3 separate regions of the Homo sapiens genome follow, and regions 2 and 3 are each linked to region 1. Evidence: fine-mapped QTL for protein levels in blood plasma. Region 1 holds a variant in brackets. A gene starts in each other region. All regions are shown on their reverse strands.

Region 1 (8,178 bases):
CAGCTGGGGGCTGTGGCCATTCTGCTCTATCTTGGATTACTCCGGTCGGGGACAGGTAAGTGAGGACGTGGGGGCAGGGTGGGGACAATGCACTGGAGGGAGCCGGCGTGATCATTTTCTGGGGTGTGCCCTTGTCTGGGGCCCAAGAAAACCCCCGGCCTCCCTAGCTCTTGGCCTCTCTTTCCCACCTTGGCTCTGTCAGGGAAGGGGCCAGCCCTCTGGAGCAGTGGTGGGTACTAAGGGGTCAGGGAACCCGAGTCTTCCCTACTCACCCCTCCTCTTTCTCTTTCTTTCTAGGAGCGGAAGGGGCAGAAGGTGAGACTTTCCTCGGAGAGGGAGGAGGGGAGGGGGAGGTGACTTGGATCGGATTCCCCTGGGGTTTAACCAGTGCCTGGCCTTCAGCTGGGCTGCCTTCCAACTAGATTCTCTTAGGGCTCCCAGAGTGGGGGGTTTTAGCCCTCACCTTATGGGCAGAGAAGCAGGGACTTGCCCAGGGCACACTGCCAGTGAAGGTGCAGCTGGGATTCAGATCCACGTCTGACTCCCAAAGTGGGGCAATCGAGGTGGTTTTTTTGGTTTGGTTTTTGTCTTTTGAAACAGGGTCTGGGTCTGTCGTCACCCAGGCTGGAGTGCAGTGGCCCGATCGCAGCTCACTGCAGTCTCAGTGATCCAGCCTCCCGGGCTCACGTGATCCTCCCACCTCCCCACCTCAGCCTCCCTAGTGGCTGGGACTACAGGTGCATGCCATCACACCCAGCTAGTTGTGTTTTGTTTTTGTTTTTGTTTTTGTTTGGTAGAGATGTGGGTCTCACTATGTTGGCCGGGCAGGTCTTGAACTCCTGGGCTCAAGCGATCCTCCTGCCTTGGCCTCTCAAAGTGCTGGGATTACAGGTGTGAGCCACCGTTCCCATCCTGGAGGTGGTTTTGAGGGAACCAAACCAAGGGTCTCCTTTCTTGGAAGGCACCCAACCCAGCTCTGAGTCAGACCGGCTTTCAATCCTGGCTTCCCCATGCACTGGCTGTGTGTCATTGGCCAAGTCCCCCCACTTCTCTAAGCCTTAGACTCCTCACCTCTAAAATGAAGCTGGTCATGTCCGTCTCCTGGGGCTGTGGAGAGGATGCAGGGAGATGAGGAAGCGAAAGCCCCTCCAGGGCCTGGCACAGCCGCTAGGCTCTCTAAATAGTGGCTATTGTCATGATGATAAGGGAGAGAAAGATCTGGTCTGCAATTTTCTCTGCTCCTAGATGACTTTGTGAAGAGCAGTTGGGCTCCACTCCAAAGTGGCCTCAATGGGGGTGGGGCTGGGGCTGTCCTGGAAACTAGACATTCACATCACAGGAGCCCAGTTCTGCTGTTGGTTTGTTGAATATATGTCCACGACGCCACAGGCACTGCAGACATGAGAATCTGCCCCTAGGGAATGCCCAGATTGGTGTGGTGGAAACAGACACAGTTGTGGACTCCGGAACAATTGTGAGACTGGGCAGCATCGGGGAGCATGGTGGAGGTTGGGGGGTGCTGGGCTCGGAGGCAATGCCCAACTCAGCCAGCAGAAGCCCGCCTGTCTACGGAGGGGCTGCTGTTCCAATCAAGCATCCACAGGCAAAGGGAAGTTTGCCAGACAGTAAGGATGGGGAAGGGCATACCAGGTAGAGTGACCTGGATCAGCCAAGGTCCCGGGTAAACAAGTGTGTGGCCTGATGTACACAACTGAAGGGTCCAGAGGGGACGGCTGGGTCCGATGGCGGTGCCATGGTCTGTCTGGAATGTATCTTAAGGACCGCGTGGAGCCAAGAAGGGTTTAAGCAGGGCTGTGGCCTGGTCAGATTGGGGGTTTATGAAAATCTTCAGACTTGTAAGGGGCGGGATGGATGGAAGGCTTGCAAGGAGAGAAGCTGCCATGAGACCTGAATTAGGTAATGGGTAGTGGACAGAAGGGGCACAACTGCCCATGCCTGGGAGGGGACAAAGGGGTGTTGACTCCTGTGAACCCACTTCCCAAGCTCTATATCAGAGCTCCTGGGCTGCATAGGAGTGGCCAGGCTAACAACCTGACCCCTTCCCTTCCTCCCTGGGCAGCTCCCTGCGGTGTGGCCCCCCAAGCACGCATCACAGGTGGCAGCAGTGCAGTCGCCGGTCAGTGGCCCTGGCAGGTCAGCATCACCTATGAAGGCGTCCATGTGTGTGGTGGCTCTCTCGTGTCTGAGCAGTGGGTGCTGTCAGCTGCTCACTGCTTCCCCAGGTACCAAATGGTGAAAGTCAAAAGTGGGCTGGAGGTCAAAGTTAATGGGTCAATCCAGGTCAGAGGTTGGGGTTCTTGGGTTGGGTCTGAGAGTGTCAGTTCTAAGTCTGGAAGGACCAGTTAGGAGTGAAGGTGAGGGGTCAGAGGTTACATGATAAAACTAAGGTGCAATTTGAGACCTAAAAGGGGCTGATCGGAATCAGGGGTTGGCAGTGGGGGTTGGGGAACAAGGAGAGGTCTCCTGGGTCTCAGCCTTTGCCCCCTGCCTGCAGCGAGCACCACAAGGAAGCCTATGAGGTCAAGCTGGGGGCCCACCAGCTAGACTCCTACTCCGAGGACGCCAAGGTCAGCACCCTGAAGGACATCATCCCCCACCCCAGCTACCTCCAGGAGGGCTCCCAGGGCGACATTGCACTCCTCCAACTCAGCAGACCCATCACCTTCTCCCGCTACATCCGGCCCATCTGCCTCCCTGCAGCCAACGCCTCCTTCCCCAACGGCCTCCACTGCACTGTCACTGGCTGGGGTCATGTGGCCCCCTCAGGTGAGGTGGGACGCTGGGTGCCTAGAGGTGTGGAGGGGCACCTGACTTGGGGAGGGGCCCAGGGTAAGCCTCTTTTACCCCCACAGTGAGCCTCCTGACGCCCAAGCCACTGCAGCAACTCGAGGTGCCTCTGATCAGTCGTGAGACGTGTAACTGCCTGTACAACATCGACGCCAAGCCTGAGGAGCCGCACTTTGTCCAAGAGGACATGGTGTGTGCTGGCTATGTGGAGGGGGGCAAGGACGCCTGCCAGGTAAGCACAGGCCCGGGGGGCAGATGACCAGTGCAACTTCGGAAAGGAGGCCTGGCCCGGTCCTGATGGCTGCTGTGTGGCTTCTCTCCTCAGGGTGACTCTGGGGGCCCACTCTCCTGCCCTGTGGAGGGTCTCTGGTACCTGACGGGCATTGTGAGCTGGGGAGATGCCTGTGGGGCCCGCAACAGGCCTGGTGTGTACACTCTGGCCTCCAGCTATGCCTCCTGGATCCAAAGCAAGGTGACAGAACTCCAGCCTCGTGTGGTGCCCCAAACCCAGGAGTCCCAGCCCGACAGCAACCTCTGTGGCAGCCACCTGGCCTTCAGCTCTGCCCCAGCCCAGGGCTTGCTGAGGCCCATCCTTTTCCTGCCTCTGGGCCTGGCTCTGGGCCTCCTCTCCCCATGGCTCAGCGAGCACTGAGCTGGCCCTACTTCCAGGATGGATGCATCACACTCAAGGACAGGAGCCTGGTCCTTCCCTGATGGCCTTTGGACCCAGGGCCTGACTTGAGCCACTCCTTCCTTCAGGACTCTGCGGGAGGCTGGGGCCCCATCTTGATCTTTGAGCCCATTCTTCTGGGTGTGCTTTTTGGGACCATCACTGAGAGTCAGGAGTTTTACTGCCTGTAGCAATGGCCAGAGCCTCTGGCCCCTCACCCACCATGGACCAGCCCATTGGCCGAGCTCCTGGGGAGCTCCTGGGACCCTTGGCTATGAAAATGAGCCCTGGCTCCCACCTGTTTCTGGAAGACTGCTCCCGGCCCGCCTGCCCAGACTGATGAGCACATCTCTCTGCCCTCTCCCTGTGTTCTGGGCTGGGGCCACCTTTGTGCAGCTTCGAGGACAGGAAAGGCCCCAATCTTGCCCACTGGCCGCTGAGCGCCCCCGAGCCCTGACTCCTGGACTCCGGAGGACT[G/A]AGCCCCCACCGGAACTGGGCTGGCGCTTGGATCTGGGGTGGGAGTAACAGGGCAGAAATGATTAAAATGTTTGAGCACAACTTGCCGTGCATGTGTGAAGTGAAATGAAGAACATCCGCTCTTGGCCTCCCCTTCCCCTCCAAAGTCCAGGGCCACCAGAACTGACTTTATTAAAAAAATGACAAAACAGGTCTATACATATTTACAGGCTGGGAGCCAGGAGGCTCAGGTCCGACAGCAGGGGCCAGGCTGCTCACTTCTTGGAGAGCTTGACTTGCTTGTGCTTGGGGGGTGCCCACTTGAGGCAGACGGAGTCCACTGTGGGGAGAAGGGGCGGGAGGCAGGGCTGGGCCTGGGCCAGGCCAGCTCACACCTGGCTGCCCTCCTCTGGGCTCAGGCCAGTTTCACCTCCTCCAGGTGAGAACAAAAGGGCAGGCTGTGCTGGGGAGGGGTAGGGAAGCCCAGGAATGAGAGGCCTGCCCCGGGCTCCATCCTGGGAGCTGGTCTGACTGGTTTGGGATCATGTGACAGCAATAAGGAGGCCTTGACTCCTACCAGTCCATATACTGACACTCCCCCACCGCCCCCGACACACAGCAGCCCCCCACCCACCTGTGATGGGTGGTTTCTTATACTGGGCACTTTTGAGGTGCTCCTCCACCAGCTTGGGTGTGACACAGATCACGTGCTGGCCCTTCCAGTACTTGACCATATTGAGGGATTGCAGGGTACTGATGATGTCATTTTGGGTGATACTGGTCATCTGGCTGCAAAAAGGGATGAGAGCAAATGCCAGACCTGGTGCCCTTGTGGGATCTGGCCAGGATGGTGACAGGGTATGAGGAAGCAGGATCGTGGCCCATCTCAGGGCAAGTCCTGCCCCCAGGGCCCGGGAGGCCCCCTCACCTGAGGTCCTTGATGGACAGTGTGCCCCGGAAGTCCCGCAGGATCTCTAGCAGCACCCAGGACCAGTAGCTGCGGTAGCTGAGCTTGCCCAGGTCAGACAGTGGCTTCTCCGGGGAGCCGACTGTGCTCTCCAGCTTGGAGAGCTCATAACCTGGCAGCAGTAGAAAGAGGAACTTAGGATCCAGCCTGCCCTGGCACCCCTGCCCCACAGGTCTCCCCCTCCCAGACAGGCCAGGAACCACTCACTGAAAGCGATGAGGAACTTCCCGTAGCCGCGGCGTTGGTAGGGGGGCAAGGTCAGGATGCAGGCCACATTGTTTCCATCCGGGGACTCCTTCTCCTGCAGGAGGCAGGTGCTCAGGGCCGCTGGGGAGGCTCTGCCCCACTCTCTGTTCATGCCCACCTTCGCCCTCCCCACCCTCCCCACCCCGAGTTTCCAGACCCAGCACCTTGGAGAAGTAGCCAACAATGTGGGCCCCCTGCCGGTCCACCTCAGTCAGGATGTAAAAGACGAACGGCTCCACGTCAAAGTACAGTGTCTTATGGTCCAGGAAAAGCTTGGCCAGCAGACACAGGTTCTGACAGTAAATCTAGGGTTGAGGAGGGGGGAGACAGGCTCAGGGGGCAGGCACAGGCCCCACCCAGCTGGTTCCAGCGGCCGGCACCAGCCCACGCGAAGTGGGCGCCTCGCCAGGCCAGAAGGATTTCACACTGGAAGGAGTCTTCGGTCAGCCTCTGACGAACAGGGAACTGGAAATGAGAGAGCAACAGCACTTCGGAGGTGCCAGTGGAGCTGGATGAAGCCCGGCCACCCCTTCTGAGTGCCAAATACGAGCTGGGTGCCTTCCATGCAGGATCTGCTTCAGTCTTCACAGACATTAACTCTGTTTCAGCTCGTGAAACTGAGGCTCCGAGGCAGGAATTTAGACCGTCCTGTTCATGGCTGTGTCCCCAGCGCCTAGCACGAGTCTAAGTATGAAGCTGGGTGCCTGGTAAACGTCTGCTGAATGGAGGAACCTCGAGCCCTGTCTGTCCACTTGGCTGCACTCCAGGAGGGGGACAATGGGACCGAGTTTGGCTTCACGGCACACACTAAGGGGCTCCCTGGTTTATGACACCACAGCCACTCTCTCATCCAACCCGGCAGCTGTGCGAGCCCAGCACTGCCAGGCCCATCTTACTCAGGAGGAAGCTGAAGCTCCCAGAGTGGAAGTGCTTGCCCAGAGCCTCAAAGCTGGCAGAGCGCAGTTGGAAAGCACCCCCACATCTCCAGCGGGGGCCCTTCTGCTATTCCACACAGCCATGCTCAGGAAGGCAGAGCAGGGGCAAGGGCTGGGCTCAGCCTGCGTATTCTCCGAGTCCAAGGCTAATCAAGCCCCAAGAGGTCACCGATAATAACAAGGCCCGTGTTTATTAAGCACATACTAGTGCTAAGCACTGCACTAAACACTTGACATTTGCTGTCTCATTTATTCCACTAACAACACAACTAGGTAAATATTAAATATTATGACTCCCGTCTTATGGACAAGGAAACAGGAACAAACCATGTTAAGTAACTTGTCTGTGGTCAGTGAGGAAGTGACAAGGCAACATGAGCCACCCTGAAGCCTGCCCTCTCTGTCCTGTGCTGTATGGCCCATCTGCGGGAAACCAGTACACTTGGCCAGACCCTCCCAGACTGATAAGGCAAAGGCCAAGTTCTCTACAACAGCTAGGCAGGTCCCAAAGGCCCCAACCTGCCCTGCTGAAGTCATTCGGGGCCAGGAACAAGGAACTCAAACCTTGAAAGCCACAGAGCTCTCTCAGGAGGAAATTTCACACAAAGCAGTCCCCTCCCAGGCAAAAACAAACACCTTTCTTTCCAACGGAAGGAGAGAGCACTTCTAAAAGCAGCCTCAGGCAAGAAAATCTCCTCTGGGTTCCAGAACAACCCAAGTTTGAACCTAACCCCACCAGCAGAAGAGTCTTGGGGCCACCACAAGGCCCTGTGTTTCCTATGCACCAACTACAGGCCTAGTGCCAGGCTAGGAGGCCCTCAGAGGCCTTCTTTTTTTTTTTTGAGACAGATTCTCAATCTGACGACCAGGCTGGAGTACAGTGGCACAATCTCAGCTCACTGCAACCTCTGCCTCCCAGGTTCAAGCAATTCTTGTGCCTCAGCCTCCCGAGTAGCTGGGATTACAGGTGCGCACCACCACGCCAGCTAATTTTTTGTATTTTTAGTCGAGGAGTTTCGTCATGTTACCCAGGCTGCTCTCAAACTCCTGAGCTCAGGCAATCTGCCCACCTCAGCCTCCAAAAGTGCTAGGATTACAGGTGTGAGCTGCAGTGCCCGGCCCCTCAGAGGCATTCTGCCCATAGAGGCTCAGCTAAGGCTGCCCCCTCCCCTTTGGTGGTGATGAGGATCATCTGGGAGGTGCCCAGGGCCTCCCCGGCCTCTCCCAACCCCTGGCCACCCACTCACCTTATGGTCTTTGCCATCAACTTCGTACACGGAGATGTTGCTCTTGCGGTAGATCTCTTTCCCGGGGGGCTGCCGCCACTGGCACTGACCCTGGTCGGGGACAAGAGAACAGGTTCGCTGCCCATATGTTCTCTGCTAGGAGGCACCCAACCCACCACTGCATGCTTTGGAGCAAGTCTCTGCCTCTCTGTTTCCCCCCTCAACACTTCACCTACATCGAGTAATCCTCCCAGCAGCCTTAGGAAAGTGATCCTGCTTTTACAGACCAAGGCCCAGGCACAGAGATCCAAACATCACACAGCACGGTGGGGTTTTGAGTCTCTGTGGGCCTGGCTCTGGAGGGACCCGTCCATGACAATGGCTTCCCTAAACCACACCTATTCGCTTCAGATTCCACACTTCGGGAAGCAGCCCACTGTGTCAGTGATGAGAGCGCCCCTTCCTGACAGCCCCCAATTTCATCCACACTTAAGGTCCCACTGCCAGGGGCTATGTGTGCTTCCTGGGATGGAGCTGGCCTTGGCAAAAGACCTGAAGGGGGTGAGTTACTGTCCCCATTCCAGAGAAGAGGAGCTGAGGTCTGAAGTTGGCAAGGTCACCCTGCCAGCAACAGCAAAGCCAGGCCTGGAATCCAGGCCTCCTGACCCCCAGCAGCTCTTCCCTGTACTCGCTCCTTTGGGCCTGTCTCCTCCCTGGAGCTGCCGGCGCAGCCGCCCTCAGTCTCCATGCCTGCCTCTGCCTCTCACCGGGCCCCTGCCCAGCTCGGCCCGGCCGGCCCAGCCTCACCAAGTGGAAGCGGTAGCTCTTCTCATATTTCATGTACTTGAGGCAGTACTCGCAGAGCCAGAG
Region 2 (8,178 bases), not on the chromosome of region 1:
AAAGACAATGAATGTGAAATCTGGTTAATGTAATTCACAAAATAACAGATTGAAGAGACAATCCATATATTTATTTCAATTGATGAAGAAAAGGCATTTGATAAAAATTCAACATCCTTTCATGAGAAAAACTCTTAGCTAACTAGAATTAAAAGGGAACTTTATTAACCTGATTCAGCAGAACATGGGATGAATTCCACAAGGTCACATGGCATGGGCTAAGGAATGCCTTTACTGGGTGAAACCAGTGAGCCAAGGATCAGCACTCCTAAGCATGGGATACTCCCAGCAGACACTCCCATCATTACTCGCTTCAGCCTACATTGAGGTGTTCTGAGGCCATGCACAGCTATTAGTCAGTGAGGCAGGACAGCAGCGTTTCTCAACATCAATACTATTGGCACTTGGAGACAGATCATTGTTTGTTGTGAAAAGCTGTCTTGTGCATTGTTAGATATTTAGCAGCAACCTCAGCCTCTAGACACTGGATGTGAGAAGCACATCTGTCCCAGTTGTGACAATCAAATATGTCTCCAGACATTGCCAAAGTCCCCTGGGGACAAAATAACCACCTTTTGAGAAGGTAGTTTACTACTACAAAACAGGAACATTGTCCCCTGCAATTTTACCTTCTTATAATATGAATATGAGAAGTTCCTTATGGGGCTTGCTTCCTAGACAGTCTAGGTTTCTAGGAAACCTAAATGTAAGCCTAAATGTATTTATATATATACATATATAAACATATTTTTGCTATGTATATATGTATATATATATGTAAACATATTTTTGCTATTGAGTTGCAGTTCTTTATATATTTTGAAAATTAACCCCTTATCTGGTAGGTAGTTTGCAAATATTTTTCCCATCTCACAGGTTGCCTTTATTACTAAATATTTTACATGTTATTGCTTTTAACGTATTACATTTTTCTAACCAATATTTCTAGTGTATAGAAAGCAGCTGACTTTTATATATTGATTTTTGTGTCAGCTAATCTTGAAAAATTGTCTAACTCATGATGTATCTGTAGTTTCTTTTGTGTTTTTATTATTGCATCATTTGCAAACAATGGCTTTTCTCGTCTCCCATTCTAATACTTATTTCTTTTCTTTTTCATTATATATATGTGTGTGTACATATGCATATATATATATATATACACACACATATAAATATAAAGACCCAATTAAAAGTGAATAAGACTTAAACAGACATTTCTCCAAAGAAGATATACAAATGGCCAACAGGTATGTGAAAAGATACTCAACATGTCTAATCATCAGGAAAATGAAAATCAAACCATAAGATCACCTCATACCTGTTAGGATGGCTTTTATTTTAAAAAGAAAAGAAAAAGAAAACAAGTACCGGTGAGAATGTGGAGAATTTGGAACCCTTGTGCACTGTCAGTGAGAATTTAAAGGAGTATAGCCACTACGGAAAACAGTATGGAAGTTCTTCAAAAAATTAAAAATAGAGCTATCACATGATCCAGCAATCCCCCTTCTGGGTATTTATCCAAAAGAATTTAAATCAGGATCCCAAAGAGATATTTGCACCTGCAAGTTCATTGCTGCAATATTCACAATAGCCAAGAAATGGAAACCTAAATGTGCATTGACCCATTGACAGATAAATGAGGGAAGGAAAAAGATTATATACATGTACATATATATGCATACCATGGAATATTATTCAGCCATAAAAAAGAAGAAAAGTCTATCTCATGCTACAACATGGGTGAACCTCAAGGACATTATGCTAAGCAAAATAAGCCAGTCACAAAAGGACAAATATGGCATAATTCCACTTTTATGAAGTGTCTAAAGTAGTCACTTATAGAAGCAGAAAACAGAATGGTGGTTCCAAGGGTCTGGGGGTGGGGGGAATAGGGAGTTGCTATTCAGTGGGTTTCAGTCATGCAAGATGAAAAAGTTCTAGAGACCTACTGTATGACACTGTGCCCACAATTAACAATACTGTTAGTATGCACTTAAAAATATGTTAAGAGGTCATGTCTTATAGTATATATTTCTTACCACAATTTTTTAAAAAAACACGGTGTTGAGCAAAGCATGCAAAATACAAAAGAATACTTAGGCCATAATTACGCTTACACGAAATTAAACAACACGTATCACTAAGCAAGCCATAGCAAGAGAGCAAAACTTTAAAGGAAAACATGAGGATGATTAACAGAAAGTTCAAGATAGTGGTTACCTCTGAAGTAGGGATGGTAATGTCCTATTCTAAATTGATAGGTTCATAGGTGTTTATTATTCTTTTTCAAAAGGTATAGAATGTTGATTACATTCTTTCATATGTAGGATTTATTTTACAATACTTTTTTTAAAGAAGTATCATCAACAGTCAATTACAAATGACATTTTGGGGAGAACCGGAGAAACAAATATGAACTGGCTATGAGATGACATGCAGAAACTATTAATTATCTTAGATATGATAATGGCTTTGTGATTATATTGAAGAATATCCTTATTCTTAGAATTTGCATGCTGATGTATTTAGGAAATAGGAACATAATGTATTCAATTTCATTTCAAATATTTCAACAAATGTAGCTATAGGTATTCTAAAATATCCCAAACTATTAATAATTGTTAAATCCAGTTGTAGGTATACAAGTATCATTGTTCTGTTATTTCAATTTTTCTGTATGTTTAAAAAGTTCATAATAAAAAGGTGGAGGAGGAAATAGCCAATACATTCCAACATTCTAGTATTTGTTTATGAACTTCCCAGATTCCATCCCTGGTATCCAAATGATCTGAGTCCAGTGATATGACTGGTGAGATTGTAACCAAAGATTCACCACCTAATAAGGAGTAGGCTCACTTCCAGGAATGGAGGTATCCTCCCTGCCTCCACTTAACCCCAACTCAGTCCCTTCCACACTTCAGGATGTGGAACACCCCAAACCCAAATCTTTGCATTACTCAGGGGTCCTGTTAGTAAATGACAGAAATCCAATTCAGACCAGCTTAGGCAGAAAGGTGAATGTATTGGGTGGTAACATAACCCTGGGTATGAGTGGGGCTGATCTCAGGAAAAAGTTTAGTGAAGGACTAGATATCCTCTAAATTACTCCCTGTCCATCTCTCATCTCTTTTTATCAGCATCTTAGATTTATCTTCTCAGAATTTCTCTCTCACCAGGGCCAGGACCAAATTTCTGGAGTTTCTGGGCTTATATCTGCAACTTTTCCAACAGGAAGGATTTTCCTCCCTTTAGTACTCATTCAAAGAAAGGACCCCAAAAGCCTGGTCACACACACACACACACACACACACACACACACACGCACACACGTCCATGTCTTCTTCCAAATCCAGGAATTTGGGGGATGCAGGGGCAGAGGAGGGAAAACAAATCCTATGAAGATGATACAGTATAATTATTATGCTCATTGTATGAATGAGGAAACGGAGGCTTAGAAAGGTGAAGCTGCTTTCAAAGTCACACAGCTGGTGACAGGTCCAAAATCTGCTTTCCTCCAGGCCACATGAGATTGGCGGGGGGCAGGAGCACACGGTGCTGGAGCGCAAGGCTGAGAGTGAATGTTCAGGACAGACATTTTAAGCACTGCCATTCAGATTCTTCCTTGGGGTGAGGTGAGAACTGAGAACAAGTCCGGGGCAGCACAGGAAGGAGGGAAGATTTTGGTCCCAGGTGAATCAGGCATGAAGAGGGACTGATAGAGAACACGGTGGAGTTGAGGAAGTCTGGCCCTGCCACTGCCTCGTGTGTGAACTTGAGTAATTTCATGCCCTTTCTGTGCTTCTTTTCCTCCTTCCATAAGATAGTTTGGCCCTGGTGGCGCCTAATGGTCAATCACGTGTCCATTTCTTCTCCTCGTGTGAAGAACGAGGGTCGCTCTTGGATTTCTTCATCTATTCCAGTGCAGAGCCTTAGGGAAAGCCCCAAGTCCCTCCTCAGAAGGGGCCATTTCCAAATAGAGCTGGGAAGTGCAGCCTCCCTTGCCATTTTGAGCCTTCAGCTCCACCCACTGGCATGCCCAGCAGGAACACTATAAAGCCAGGCTCAGCCCAGCTCCCAGCCAAGCACCTGCCTGGCAACATGGGGTCCAGCAGCTTCTTGGTCCTCATGGTGTCTCTCGTTCTTGTGACCCTGGTGGCTGTGGAAGGAGTTAAAGAGGGTGAGCAGACATGGTGGAGCTGGGTGGGGCTGGGCTGGGGAGAGGTCCTGAGGGGCCCTCTGGGGCTGGAGTTCTCATATCACCTTGTGGCTTCCTCCACTAGGTATAGAGAAAGCAGGGGTTTGCCCAGCTGACAACGTACGCTGCTTCAAGTCCGATCCTCCCCAGTGTCACACAGACCAGGACTGTCTGGGGGAAAGGAAGTGTTGTTACCTGCACTGTGGCTTCAAGTGTGTGATTCCTGTGAAGGAACTGGAAGAAGGTAAGGAGACCTGCCTCCCAGGGCTGGGGCTGTCCCTTCCCTGCCTCTATCTGACCCATGAAAGTTCGGAGGAATTAGTCCCTTTAGCTGGTGTGGGGAGGGATGGCTAAAGCTGGCAGGGCCCTCAGAGACCACCTAGTCTGAACATCTCCATTGTCCAAAGGAGGAAACAAGGATGAAGATGTGTCAAGGCCATACCCTGAGCCAGGATGGGAGGCCAAGTGTCCAGGCTCCTCCTCTACCAGGTGTCCTCAGAAATGATGCTGGGTCCTTTCTACCTCTGGGGGTCACTCTCACTTGGCACCTGCCCCTGAGGGTCCTGAGACTTGGAATATGGAAGAAGCAATACCCAACCCCACCAAAGAAAACCTGAGCTTGAAGTCCTTTTCCCCAAAAAGAGGGAAGAGTCACAAAAAGTCCAGACCCCAGGGACGGTACTTTCCCTCTCTACCTGGTGCTCCTCCCTAATGCTCATGAATGGACCCCTCATGAATGAAACCAGTGCCCTTATAAGAGACCCCAAAGAGCTGCCTTGCCCTTCTGCAATGTGTGATCACAGCTAGAAGGCACTGTCAGAGAAGAGAAACTGGTCCTCACCAGATGCTGAATCTGCTGGTGCCTTGATCTTGGACTTCCCAGCCTCTAGAACTGTAAGAAATAAATATTTGCTGTTTATAATCCACCCAGTCTATGGTAATTTGTTATAGCAGCCCAAACCTGCTAAGACAACCTAATAGTAAAAAAAAAAAATCCTATTCAACATTATCAAAGTGAATAAAATATAAAATACCTACAAATAAATCTAGAGATGTACAGAAATTTTCTGAAAGGAAACCCTAAAACTTTATTAAATGACATTTTAAAAGATCTGGATAAATAGACTAAACTTTTCTACAGAATAAATAAATAAATGTTTTTTAAAAGATATGCTCTTCCCCAAGCAGGAAGCCTCCTCAAAGTGTTCACCTTGGTCAGCATAATTTATACCTGAAATATAATTAAAATTAAAACCCACTGGGTTTTGCAAACCCTAATGAAATAATTGATTCTGGCAATGATTATCCATGGCTTCTGAATATTTACAGGGTGCCATTTCATCACCCTGTGGTATATTTACAGTTTGTAAGAGGGAAAACACAAGTTTACAACTTGAGGATTCAGGTACACACCGAAAACACATTAATCTGTCTCCACAATGCTAAAAATGGGTAAAGCGGACCTCCGTTCCTCCTGAGGTGATGCAACACAAAACACACAGCATCATTCAAGAAGGGCTCCTGCCAAGACAGTTGAGCATGAACCTCACCAAGCCTCTACAGCTAGCATTCATCTATGGGAAATGTGAAGGACAAAGAAGATGAAAGACATCACAGGGAAGCAACATGGGACATTCTAAAGAACAATTTGTCTGTTTTGTTCAACAAGTCAATAGCATGAAGAAGAAGAAGGAGGGAGGAAAGGAGAATAAAAAAGAGTTGGAGAGATTGTTCTAGATTAAAAGAAACTTCAGATACATTACAGCCAATGCAATATGTGCACCAACAACCATAGAGTCACTTTTGAGACAATAAGAAAAACAAGATGCAAATAGAATATTAGATGATGTTAAGAAACTGCAGTTAATTTTCTTAGGTGTAACAGTAGGATTGTCATTATGTGAGAAAGTGTCCTTAGTTTTTAGAGATGCACACTGAAGTATTTAAAGGTAAAGTATAAGATCGGTTGGATTTACTTTAAAATACTTCAGCCAAAAAAGGGGTGGGGATATGCATGAAGGAATTCTTGTAAAATGGTTCATTGTTGAATCTGGATGATGGGTATGTAGGCTCCATAAAAGTATTTGCTGTTCTTTTGTGCATTTTTGAAAACATTTTATGATAAAAACAAGGGTTTGTTTTTGCAACTTAACAAAATGATCATTAGGTTCACATGGAACAATAAAATACTTGTAACCTGGAAAATTGAAAATGTAGACTAATGAAGGGTAATGGATACCACCAGTCACTAAAACATATTATGGAGCTACAACAATTACAGCCACAATACAAGCATACCTTGTTTTATTGTGCTTTGCAGTCATTGCATTTTTTACAAATTGAAGGTTTGTGGCAACCCTGCACCAAGCAAGTACATTGGCTGCATGTTTCCTATAGCATGTGCTCACTATGTGTCTTTGTGTCACATTTTGGTAATATTCACAATATTTCAATTTTTTTCATTATCATTACATCTGTTATGTTGGTCTGTGATCAGTGATCTTTGATGATACTTTCCTAATTGTCTCAGGGTGCCATAAACTGTGCCCACATAAGACAGTGAATTTGATCGATAAATGTCACATATGTTCTGATTTCTCCCCCAACCGGCCATTCTCTGTTTCTCTCCCTTGGAACACAACAATGCTGAAATGAGGCCAATTAATCATCTTACAGTGGCCTTTAAGTGTTTAAGTGAAAAGAAGAGTCATGTCTCTCACTTTAAATCAAAAAAAGCTAGAAATGATTAACCTTAGTGAGGAAGGCATGTTTGAAAACCAAGAAAGGTCCAAAGCTAGGCCTCTTTTACCAGTTAGCCAAGTTATGAATGCAAAGGAAAAGTTATTGAAGGCAATTAAAACAGCTACTCCAGCAAACACACAAATGGTAAGTGAAACAGACTTATTGTTAATATGGAGAAAATGTTAGTGGTTTGGATAAAAAAATCAAAACAGCCACAGCATCCCCTTAGCCAAAGCCTAATCCAGAGCAAGGCCCTAACTTTTTTCAATTCTATGAAAGCTGAGAGGTGAGGAAGCTGCGTAAGAAAAGTTTGAAGATAGCAGAGGTCGGTTCACAAGATTTAAGGAAAGAAGCCATCTCCATAACATAAAAGTGTAAAGTAAAGCAGCAAGTGCTGATGGAGAAGCTGCAGCAAGTTCTCCAGAAGATCTACACAAGATAATTGAGGAAGGTGGCTACGCTACACAACAGATTTTCAATGTAGATGAAACAGTCTTTTATCGAAAGAAGAGGCCATTTAGGAATTTCATAGCTAGAGAGAAGTCAATGCTTGGCTTCAAAGCTTCAAAGGACAGGCTGACTCTCTTATTAGGGACTAGTGTATTTGGTGACTTTAAGTTAAAGCCAATGCTCATTTACTATTCCAAAAATCCTAGAGCCTTTAGGAATTATGCTAAATCTATTCTGCCTGTGCTCTATAAGTGGAACAACACAGCCTGGATGACAGCACATCCATTTACGGCATAGTTTACTGAATATTTTAAGCCCACCGTTAAGACCTACTGCTCACAAAAAAAAACAATTTCTACTTTCCTTTTGTAATATTTCTACTTATTGACAATGCATTTGATAGCCCAAGAGCTCTGACAGAGATGTACAAGACAATTAATATTTTCATGCCTGCTAACACAACATCTATTCTGCAAATCAAGGAGTAGTTTTAACTTTCAAGTTTTATTATTTAAGAAATACATCTCATAAGGCTATACATTATTTAAGAAATACATCTCATAGCTGCCACAGATGGTGATTCTTCTGATGGATCTGGGCAAAGTAAACTGAAAACCTTCTGGAAAGGGCTCACAGTCTAACTGCTATTAAGAACATTCATGATTCATGGGAGTAGGTCAAAATATCAACATGAATAGGAGTATGGAAGAAGTTGATTTCAACCCTCATGAATGACTTTGAGGGGTTCAAGACTTCAGTTGAGGAAGTCGTCACTGCAGATGTGGTGG
Region 3 (8,178 bases), not on the chromosome of region 1:
TTGCAGGAGAACGAGGATGGTAGAATAGGCTGGCCTGGGCAGGTGTCCCTTTTAGTAGTCCTCTGGGTCAGTCTCTCTCAAGGCCTGTTGATCCTGACAGACCCCAGACACCTGTGGTAGCCCAGAGATGAATGAGGCCTACTTCAAACAATGCCCTAATGCTGAGGCTTATCTGGCTTCTGTCCCACCAGAAACCAATCAGTTCCAGGAAGAGTTTTCCAGCCTAGCCTGAACCCTGCCAGTCCAATAACAGCATAGCCCCTGATGTGTAGTGAGCACTCGATAAATATTTGGCTGATGGAATTCCCACCCTCTATGTCTCTCACAGCTGAGTGCCTCCCAAATCCTTGCCCAAGCAGCCTCACCCTCTTCCCCACTCTCCAGACCTCCACAGAGGACACAACTGCACCATCTCTGTCGCTATTCTCATCATTGAGACACCATCCACCATGCATCTCCCTCCACTCTCTCCCTACCCCAGCTCTCCAGGACCCAGCCTACCACAATTCCCAACTTGCTGGCTGGTCCCACTGTGGCTTCTTGGGAAGTCTGCAAGGATGGAAAGCCCATGTGAGTACCTAATGGCGGGGGGTACTCAGAAAGAGGAGCCGCAGAGTTCTTGGTCCACAACAGGCTAGCAGGGAAGAGAAAGCTGCCTGAAATCTATCTTAATGTATCTCTCTCTCTCTCTCTCTCTCTCTCTCTCTCTTTTTGTGTGTGTGTGTGTGTGTGTGTGTGTGTGTGTATACACACATACATGGACATCTAAGTTTATGAGGCATCTTTGCATGAATATGTATTGATATATTTTCATTTATTGGCTTAATGGATTTTTTCTGCCTTTGTCAGCATGTCTTCGGTTATAAAATCTGGGGTTTGGGAATCCGATCTGCGAAGAGGGCGTATGAGCAGCCGTGGGAGGGCATATCCCAATTCCCCACCCCTCAACCCTCAGCACCAGAGGCAATGAAGGAGAGGCAGGACAAGCACTTAGGGTTGTTTAGGGAGTTGTGACATCCTATGAGAAGTGGAACTAGATGGCAGTTGAGGTCCCTTTAATTCCAGTGAATTTAAATCTAGACTGCTTTGTATAGTAACCAGACATGATTAAGTGGTCGTTCAAAGTGTGATGTTGTGGGGCAATGGAGCAACGGTGCTTATGAGAATGACCCCTGGTCAGATGGATCTGGGTTGAGGCACAGCTGCATAACTTAATGATTGTGTGCTTCTGGGCACGTCTCCTAACCTTTCTGTGCCTCAGTTTCTTCATCTGTAAAATGAGGACAGCAATAGTACCTATTAAGGTTGTAGTGAGAATCAATGAGATAACACATATGATAACACACGTGGTAAGTGCTCAGTCAATGTTGCTGGTGGTTGTTAAGGCTGTTATTCTTATTGAAGGATGCAGTTTTAAACACTTGGGTACTCAGATGAACCATCTGGCTCTATGGAGTCATCCTTAACTGTCTTCCCCAGCTCCAATCCTTGCTCCTGACCTAAAATTCCATTAATGGGGGGAGAGCTCCTGCCCTCAAAACACCATCCCATGGCCAGTTCAGCTGGACACTAGGAGAACCTAGCCAGGCTGTACTCCACTCTGACAGCTTTGGCTTCAGCTAGGGTCCACCCAGCTGGACACTTGGAAGGGACAGACCATTCATTCCCAAATTCTGAGGCATCATTGCTTCCCAGGCCAGCCAGTGACACCCTCCTTTGTCCCCTAAACAACAGGAGTCAGAGACACGTTTATGTGGTGCCAACCCAGGGAGGATGAGGATTCTGAGGGGCAGTGACTCTTCAGCCTGCTTTTGGATTGTGTAAATGAAATCTATGCAAATGAAGCAGCCATTTCTGCTCTTACTCATTCTAACCAGCTCCCTTCTGGGAGAGAAGGGCTAGGCTCACTCTTTAGTTGTGCTTCCGGGCTGGATGCAGTGGCTCACACCTGTAATCCCAGCACTTTGGGAGGCCAAGGTGGGCAGATCACCTGAGGTCAAGAGTTTGAGATCAGGTTGGCCAACATGGTCTCTACTAAAAATACAAAAATTAGCCAGGTGTGGTGGTGCATGCCTATAATCCCAGCTACTCGGGAGGCTGAGGCATGAGAATTGCTTGAGCTGGGGAGATGGAGGTTGCAGTGAGCCGAGATCACACTGCTGCACTCCAGCCTGGGCGACAGAGAGAGAGATTCCATCTCAAAATATATACATACATTGCACTTCCTGTGTGAGCCCCTTGCAAAGTTTGCTTGCCCTAGGCTTGTCCTTCTCTCTACCCCTGAGTCCCTATGTTTGGACTCCTCTCTACACAGCAACAGGCTGGGGGATTCTCTTTAACCCACCAGCAACTGTTCAACCTGGCGCATGGGCAGGAAAACTCGAGATTAAAGTCTGAGAACCTGGAAGGGATTGTCAGATCCAACCCCATCATTTCAGATGAGAAAGCTGAAGACCAGCGAGAGGAAGAAACTTCTCCTGTTAAAGCACACTGGATGAAGACGTGCTCCACTCCCAACCTCCAGAAAAAAATCACTGATAGAGTGGCCTCCACTGTTCACCAATTTTGCCTTTTTATATGATAGTTTTCTTTCCTGAGAGGGTTGAGAATCCCCATGCAGTGCTCTTTCTGGCAAGGGCATCATACTTGGCAGATTTTACCTTTATTATCGGGGAAAACTGGACAGTCACGGGGAGCTGCTCCCCTTCTTTTGGACTTGGAAACAAAAGAACCTCACTGGGGAGGAGTTCCTGAGGAGAGGAGTGTAAGTTGGGGTGAAGGGAGTGAAACCCTGGGCTCCCAGGGGAAGAAGAGTGGGCCTTCGGCTGCCTTTAAGAGGCCTCTTGCCCCTCCCCTGCCTCATAAGGAATCTGAAACGTTTAAACCCCAGAGGCTGACTCAGTAAGAGTCATTTGCATAATATTTTAGAGTGATTTAGCCATGCGCTCGACATGTGGCTGATTTAGCTATGCTGGGCTTGGTGGTCATAAGAATAGCACTGGTTCTGACCGACACATCCTCTATCTCTCTGTCCAATGACCCCAACCCTTGCTTGGGCACTTACTGTTTGTCAAATTTGGACCAATCACCTTACTGTGTGCCAGTGTCATGCTAAGCTCCAGGAATTTGAAGATGAATCCAACCTGTGGCCCCTTGGAAAGTCAGGTCTGAGACTTGGAAGTAGGTGTCTGTTTGGTGGGGATCACCCAAAGATCAGCCCATGGGTGTCCCTAATTTGGACAAAGAACCCTCCAAACTGGACCCATCTTGGTGTGCCTGCCTGCATGACCTATTTTTTAAGCTGCAAACAGCTAGCATTACCTGTTCTCAACATCTGGCATTACCTACCTTCTTAGTCACCTTCCCTCAGGCTTCAAACAGCTGTAGGGCCCCACCTCCTATCCATCTAGGGTCCCTCCCTCCCCTTTTTCTTCCTGAAAGGATCTGGAGACACCAGCTCCACAAGTCCTGGTGTCTTTAAAAGGATCAGCTTGAGGAATAAGGCTCGTCTGAGAGCTGTGACATTCATCTGACTCTAGTGAAAGTCCAACAGCCACTCCCTTTTTGGCCTCCAACTGGGCACCATGAGGGCCTGCATCTCCCTGGTATTGGCCGTGCTGTGTGGCCTGGCCTGGGCTGGTAAGTCACTATCTGGCGGGCATGGGATTGCTGGTGGGGCGGGATCTTGCCTAAAGAAGCAGAGAGTTGGAGAACTTGGTAGAGGGCAGGGCCGTGGGACAAGGGAGGGTGAGCTCTGTCCTAAAGCCGCAGAGCACTTTTGGGTTGTCCTTGTCTGAGGGTGCAGGCGTTGGTCCCGGAATGGACTGGACTATGTGGAGAGAGTTGCAGGGCTGATGGTCTGATTTCATGGAATTCCCTTCTTGACACCTTGGAGGATCAGCCCCAAATATCCCTTAGTCCAGCCTGACTTTTGATCTCCCCAAGATTTTGTTGTCTGGGGCCACTGTAAGGAATAAAGCTAGGGCTGGTGTCCATGGGGTCTGAGTGGCCTGGCTGCCCTTGGTCACTCCTTCCACTGCCTGGTGACAGGTGAGGTTGTTTAGGGTGTGATGTTACTTTGGGTAGAGCCTTAGGAGGTGGGCAGGCTTAGGAGGAAACTGAAAGGACCTTTGACCAGGAGGTGGGCCTCGTCCTATCTGGGGCTGTACAGGGGTCAGAGGAATGGATCTCTGTTGCAGTGTTAGGAGAATTGAAGAATACAGAAGGGACCTGGCCCACAGTTATGAGAGGTCCAGGGGATGGGACTGGCAGAGGAACAGGACCATGTTCCTGTTTAGTAACTGTGCAAAATGCTGGTGCTGATGGGTTAATTGGTAGCTAGTGGGTGGGTGGGAAGGAGTGCCAAGGGAGGGGCTGAGCTGAGGAGTGTGGGGAGAATCCTCCTCTGCCCACAGGAGAAAGAATCCTTCCACTGGGTTGCTCCTGTGTAGGACTGTGGAAAGGATTAAATGAAATAATGTATGAGAAGCACCTGGTGCAAAGTGAGATCTCAGTGAACTGGAAATTCGCTATGATTATGACTATAAATTTTCTTGGGAGAAACTTCCGCTTGGGGTCATTTCCAACTGGGTTGTGGAAAGGAGACCCTTATGGGATTTCTAAGTGGAAAACCCCTGGAAGAGGAAGTTGTGCCTCCCAACCATGGATGAGATAGTGCATCTTACCAGAAACCAGCTCTGCCTGGGCCCTAGTGGGTGGAGAGGCAGTGGGAGAGCATGAGGGTGGGCCTGGGAGCCACCAGCCTCAGCCCTGTTGGTTGGGAGGAAGGTGGAACTTGGGGGCTTAATGTGTAGGGGTGGCCAGCGGGCTTGGCATATTCCAGCCTTAGGGAAGGAGAGCAACTCTGGATATTTGGTCCCTGGGGGGCAGAGGTAGCAGTGGCTTTAGAAGTGCAGGTGGAGCTCTTGCTGCTAGGTCGGAGGGCAGTATCTGCTTTGGCTGTGGGATCGATGGGGAAGTGAGGTCAAGTGTATGAGGCTTCCTAAGGTGGCAGGGAAGAGGCTCTGCACTTGTTGATACTATCCCAACATCTCAGAACTGAGAGGCAAGAATATGAATCACATGGGGAATCACTGACAGCCTCAGGTCCTCCTTTATGAGCTGGATGTCTGTGGAGAACCTTGGTTGATTTTTTTGGTTGTGAATGGAGGCAGGAAGCTAGTCCAAGGGGTGAGGCTTCTTGGTTGACTAGGTCTCCATGGAAACAGCATCTGGGGCCTTCTAACGGTACAGATGTGTAGGATGTCCCAGTCATCAGAGGGGCTGAGCACCAGTGTACAGGGACACTGTGTCCACCCAGGCTTGGGACCAAGCTTCCTTGATGGCCAGTATGGATAGGGAGTGGCTGTTCTGGCATATTGAAGTCTTAGAAAGTGCAGAGAAATTGAGCATTTCTTGGGGGAATGGAGGGAGAATCTGAACCCGAGAGAGGAAAGGCTCAGATGAAGAAAGGCAGAGAGTCAGAGAGGTGAGGCAGAGGAACAAGAGGCACAGGTTACTACAGCAGTGATTCAGGCACCTGGCTTGGGGAGCAAGGCTTACTCAGAGTGTTGGTGTTAATGGTGCAGTGTGGGGATGCTGGAGTGAGTTGTTAGGGTGACTAGTTACTCATCAGAGTGTCCCCAGAATGTCACAGCAAAGTGCCTATGAGGAAAAGTTCCTCCCACCCCTGCACTCCACTGTCAAATCCCAAGGTCACCTTGAAGCAGACTAAGTGCACAGAGAAATGTGAGAAAGTGCTGGCATGGGGCTCTTGCTGGAGACAAAGTTCTTGAGCAGAGATGAAAAAGCCCACTCAGCTTGGGCCGGCGGGGGTGCTCTCCTGCACGTCCAGCTGACTGCTCGCTTGCAACCCTTCTCAACTGGTGCCAGCTGCTGGAATGAAGTGAATTCTTTCCCTGGACTCTGCTGATTTGGCCCATTAAAAACATTGCCCTGATTTGCCTGAATTCTCTCCCTTTGGATTCTGGGTGTACTGCCAGGCTGACTGAGCAGGGAGCTGATGGGCTGAAAATTTCTCCTTAAGGTCTTTGCATTCAGGCTCCAAGGGAGCATCATTTAACATTCAAGAGGAGTTCCTGCCGGCTTGAAGGAACAAGTGGCCTTGGGCCTGGTCTCTTTTAGGGACTGGAAACCTGCCTTCCTGCCCACCTTGGAGGCCTGACAATGTGAAGTTGTCTGAGGACCCGGGTTAACCTTGACCCAATGCCTCTCTGATGTAAAGAATACAGACCTGTAGTGATGAAGTCAGCCAGGAAACCAGCAACACAGATGTGCTGACAACCCAGCCCAAGGGATGGCCCTGTTGAAACCCTGGGAGAGTGTCAGCTAGATTAAGTGTGTCGACGGGGCCACAACACAGGGAAGACTGCTCCAGCCAGTCTGAACACTTGTCACTTGGAAGATGGGCATGAAATATTGCCACCGTTTATTCACCTAACAAATACTTCTATGGTACTACTATGTGTCACTTGCTGTCCTAAGTGCTTTACATATATTAACTCATTTAATTCTTACAAATATTCTATGAGATAGGCTCCATTATCATCCCACTTTTACAGATACGAAAACCAACGCACAGAAGTTCAAATAACTTGCCCAAGATCACATAGCTAGAAAGCAGTAGAACCAGAATTCCAGCCTCAAGCAGTTTGGCGCCAGAGTCTAGGTTCTTGACCTCTCTGCTATGCTGTCCCTCATTAGACAAAGTATCAACCTTAATCCCAGAATCCAATACTAGGGACTGGTAACCAAACCCAACCTCTAATATTTAAGCTCTAACCCACTCCAGGCTTAAATTAAGATACTACACCTGTATTGAATCATAACCAGAACCAAGCCCCCAAACAAAACAGGGATTATTCATCTTTTTCTCATCCTGACACATTCCTCAACCCCGAATGTCATCTTAAGTCTATTCCTATTCCTTACCCAAATATCAATACAAAATTGTTAATTTATCAACTAATTTAACTCAAGCCCAAATCCTAACTGTAGTTCTTAACCTAACTAACCCCAACCCTGGTCCAAATTAGGTTTCAGTTTCCTCACTGATACAAATTCTGATGCTGATGGTAACTCTGACTCTGATCTTGACATTCTCTGTAACCCACAGTATGACCTCTGAACCCAGCGTTCGTGAAATCCAAACCTCAGGAACCTCAAATCGAACAAAGACTCTGTTATCACCCTTAAAGCCCAGAGTGGATAGTGGGTTTCCACTGTTCCTTCAAAATGTCTTGTCTTATGTCCCTTGCGACCAAAAGCTTGCTTCTGCAAACCATTTGGCTGCAGTGGGGGATGTGGTCTGTGGTTACATAATAGAATGCTATGCCAGAGCCCAATTCTCACCCGCACCCGCCTCATTCCCCACCCTGAGCATAAATTCATCTGAATGTACTCCAAAGACGGGAAAGAACAGAAAGATGTGACACAGGGGGAAAGAGCGTGCAGAGAAGACCAGAAGGGGAGACAAGAGCAAAGAAGCAAATAACATAACAGGGATGGAATAAGAGCCAGCGGAGGGTCAGGGGCAGGGGACATCCCTGGGGCAGCATGACATGACAGGTGAAGGGGGCCTGTGGGCTACACCCAGTTCACAGACCTCTTTCTTTGGTGTGCTTAAAGTGTTACAAGGTTGGAAAATTTCACATAAAAATGAAGATTTATCTTGAAAAAAAAAGGGAAGGCTCTGGCAACACTGAGCACACATCCCAACATGGCCACAATCGGCTAGAGCTGAGCATCAGCTGCAAATTTCAGATGGAGCATTGCTCTCAAGTTTGTCACGGTCTCCATTTCTTCCTACTGCCTCATACCCTGCTTCTTTACTTGCTTATGTTATGGGCCTAACCCAAATAGGGATTTGGGTTTGTGATCCTGGTCTCTTTGATGAGCCTTGAAATATTTGGTGGGTGTTGGGTGGTGGGGAGGAGGCTTATGTTGTGCATGGGAGGCTGTGGATGTACTTCTCCTTTGCAGAGAGTAATGCCCTTCCCTGCCAGGTACACTCCTGCCCTGGTCTGTGAACCCTCCTGCAGGAGGCACCCTGGGGAGAACAGGGTCTCCATAGAGCTGAGTTGGTGACCTTTACTGCCCATAGGAAAAATAGAATCCTGTGCATCTCGATGTAATGAGAAATTTAACCGGGACGCTGCC

Which allele goes with the higher level. Positions count from the first base shown, and alleles are read on the strand shown. Strength reflects both the effect of a copy and how common the allele is.
With allele A in place of G in region 1, the plasma level of the protein whose gene starts at base 4,084 in region 2 is lower (weak association).
In carriers of allele G in region 1, the plasma level of the protein whose gene starts at base 3,508 in region 3 tends to be higher than with A alone (weak association).

Evidence for each region. PIP is the chance, under the fine-mapping model, that this variant and not a neighbour inherited with it causes the effect. Protein levels are from antibody-based Olink assays in UK Biobank. Linkage for the fine-mapping came from a reference panel and not from the study's own genotypes, which makes the PIPs less certain.
Region 2: it holds the start of WFDC12, and the variant in region 1 is fine-mapped to the plasma level of the WFDC12 protein (UK Biobank, PIP above 0.99).
Region 3: it holds the start of ENDOU, and the variant in region 1 is fine-mapped to the plasma level of the ENDOU protein (UK Biobank, PIP above 0.99).

The regions. Positions count from the first base shown.
Region 1 is chr16:31,127,291-31,135,468 of GRCh38, reverse strand. It overlaps KAT8 (lysine acetyltransferase 8), which reads right to left. Exons shown (of 11, transcript NM_032188.3): 5 at 8,116-8,178; 6 at 7,330-7,419; 7 at 5,312-5,452; 8 at 5,109-5,202; 9 at 4,863-5,013; 10 at 4,569-4,723; 11 at 4,110-4,274. The coding sequence ends at 4,210. PRSS8 (serine protease 8) reads left to right here. Exons shown (of 6, transcript NM_002773.5): 1 at 1-55; 2 at 298-315; 3 at 2,081-2,243; 4 at 2,516-2,787; 5 at 2,874-3,040; 6 at 3,134-4,036. The coding sequence ends at 3,460. Among named protein-coding and RNA genes, the nearest start is that of PRSS8, 4.3 kb to the left of the region's middle. RefSeq lists enhancers at 681-1,627, 2,576-3,521, 4,470-5,417, 5,418-6,365. The variant G/A (reference allele first, on the strand shown) is at 3,956.
Region 2 is chr20:45,120,371-45,128,548 of GRCh38, reverse strand. WFDC12 (WAP four-disulfide core domain 12) reads left to right here and starts at 4,084. Exons shown (of 3, transcript NM_080869.2): 1 at 4,084-4,180; 2 at 4,284-4,442; 3 at 4,606-5,124. The coding sequence starts at 4,102. The coding sequence ends at 4,703.
Region 3 is chr12:47,720,820-47,728,997 of GRCh38, reverse strand. It overlaps ENDOU (endonuclease, poly(U) specific), which reads left to right and starts at 3,508. Exons shown (of 10, transcript NM_001172439.2): 1 at 3,508-3,639; 2 at 8,123-8,178. The coding sequence starts at 3,585. RPAP3-DT (RPAP3 divergent transcript) reads right to left here. Exons shown (of 4, transcript NR_183480.1): 4 at 1-111. RefSeq lists silencers at 1,849-1,908, 2,874-2,993.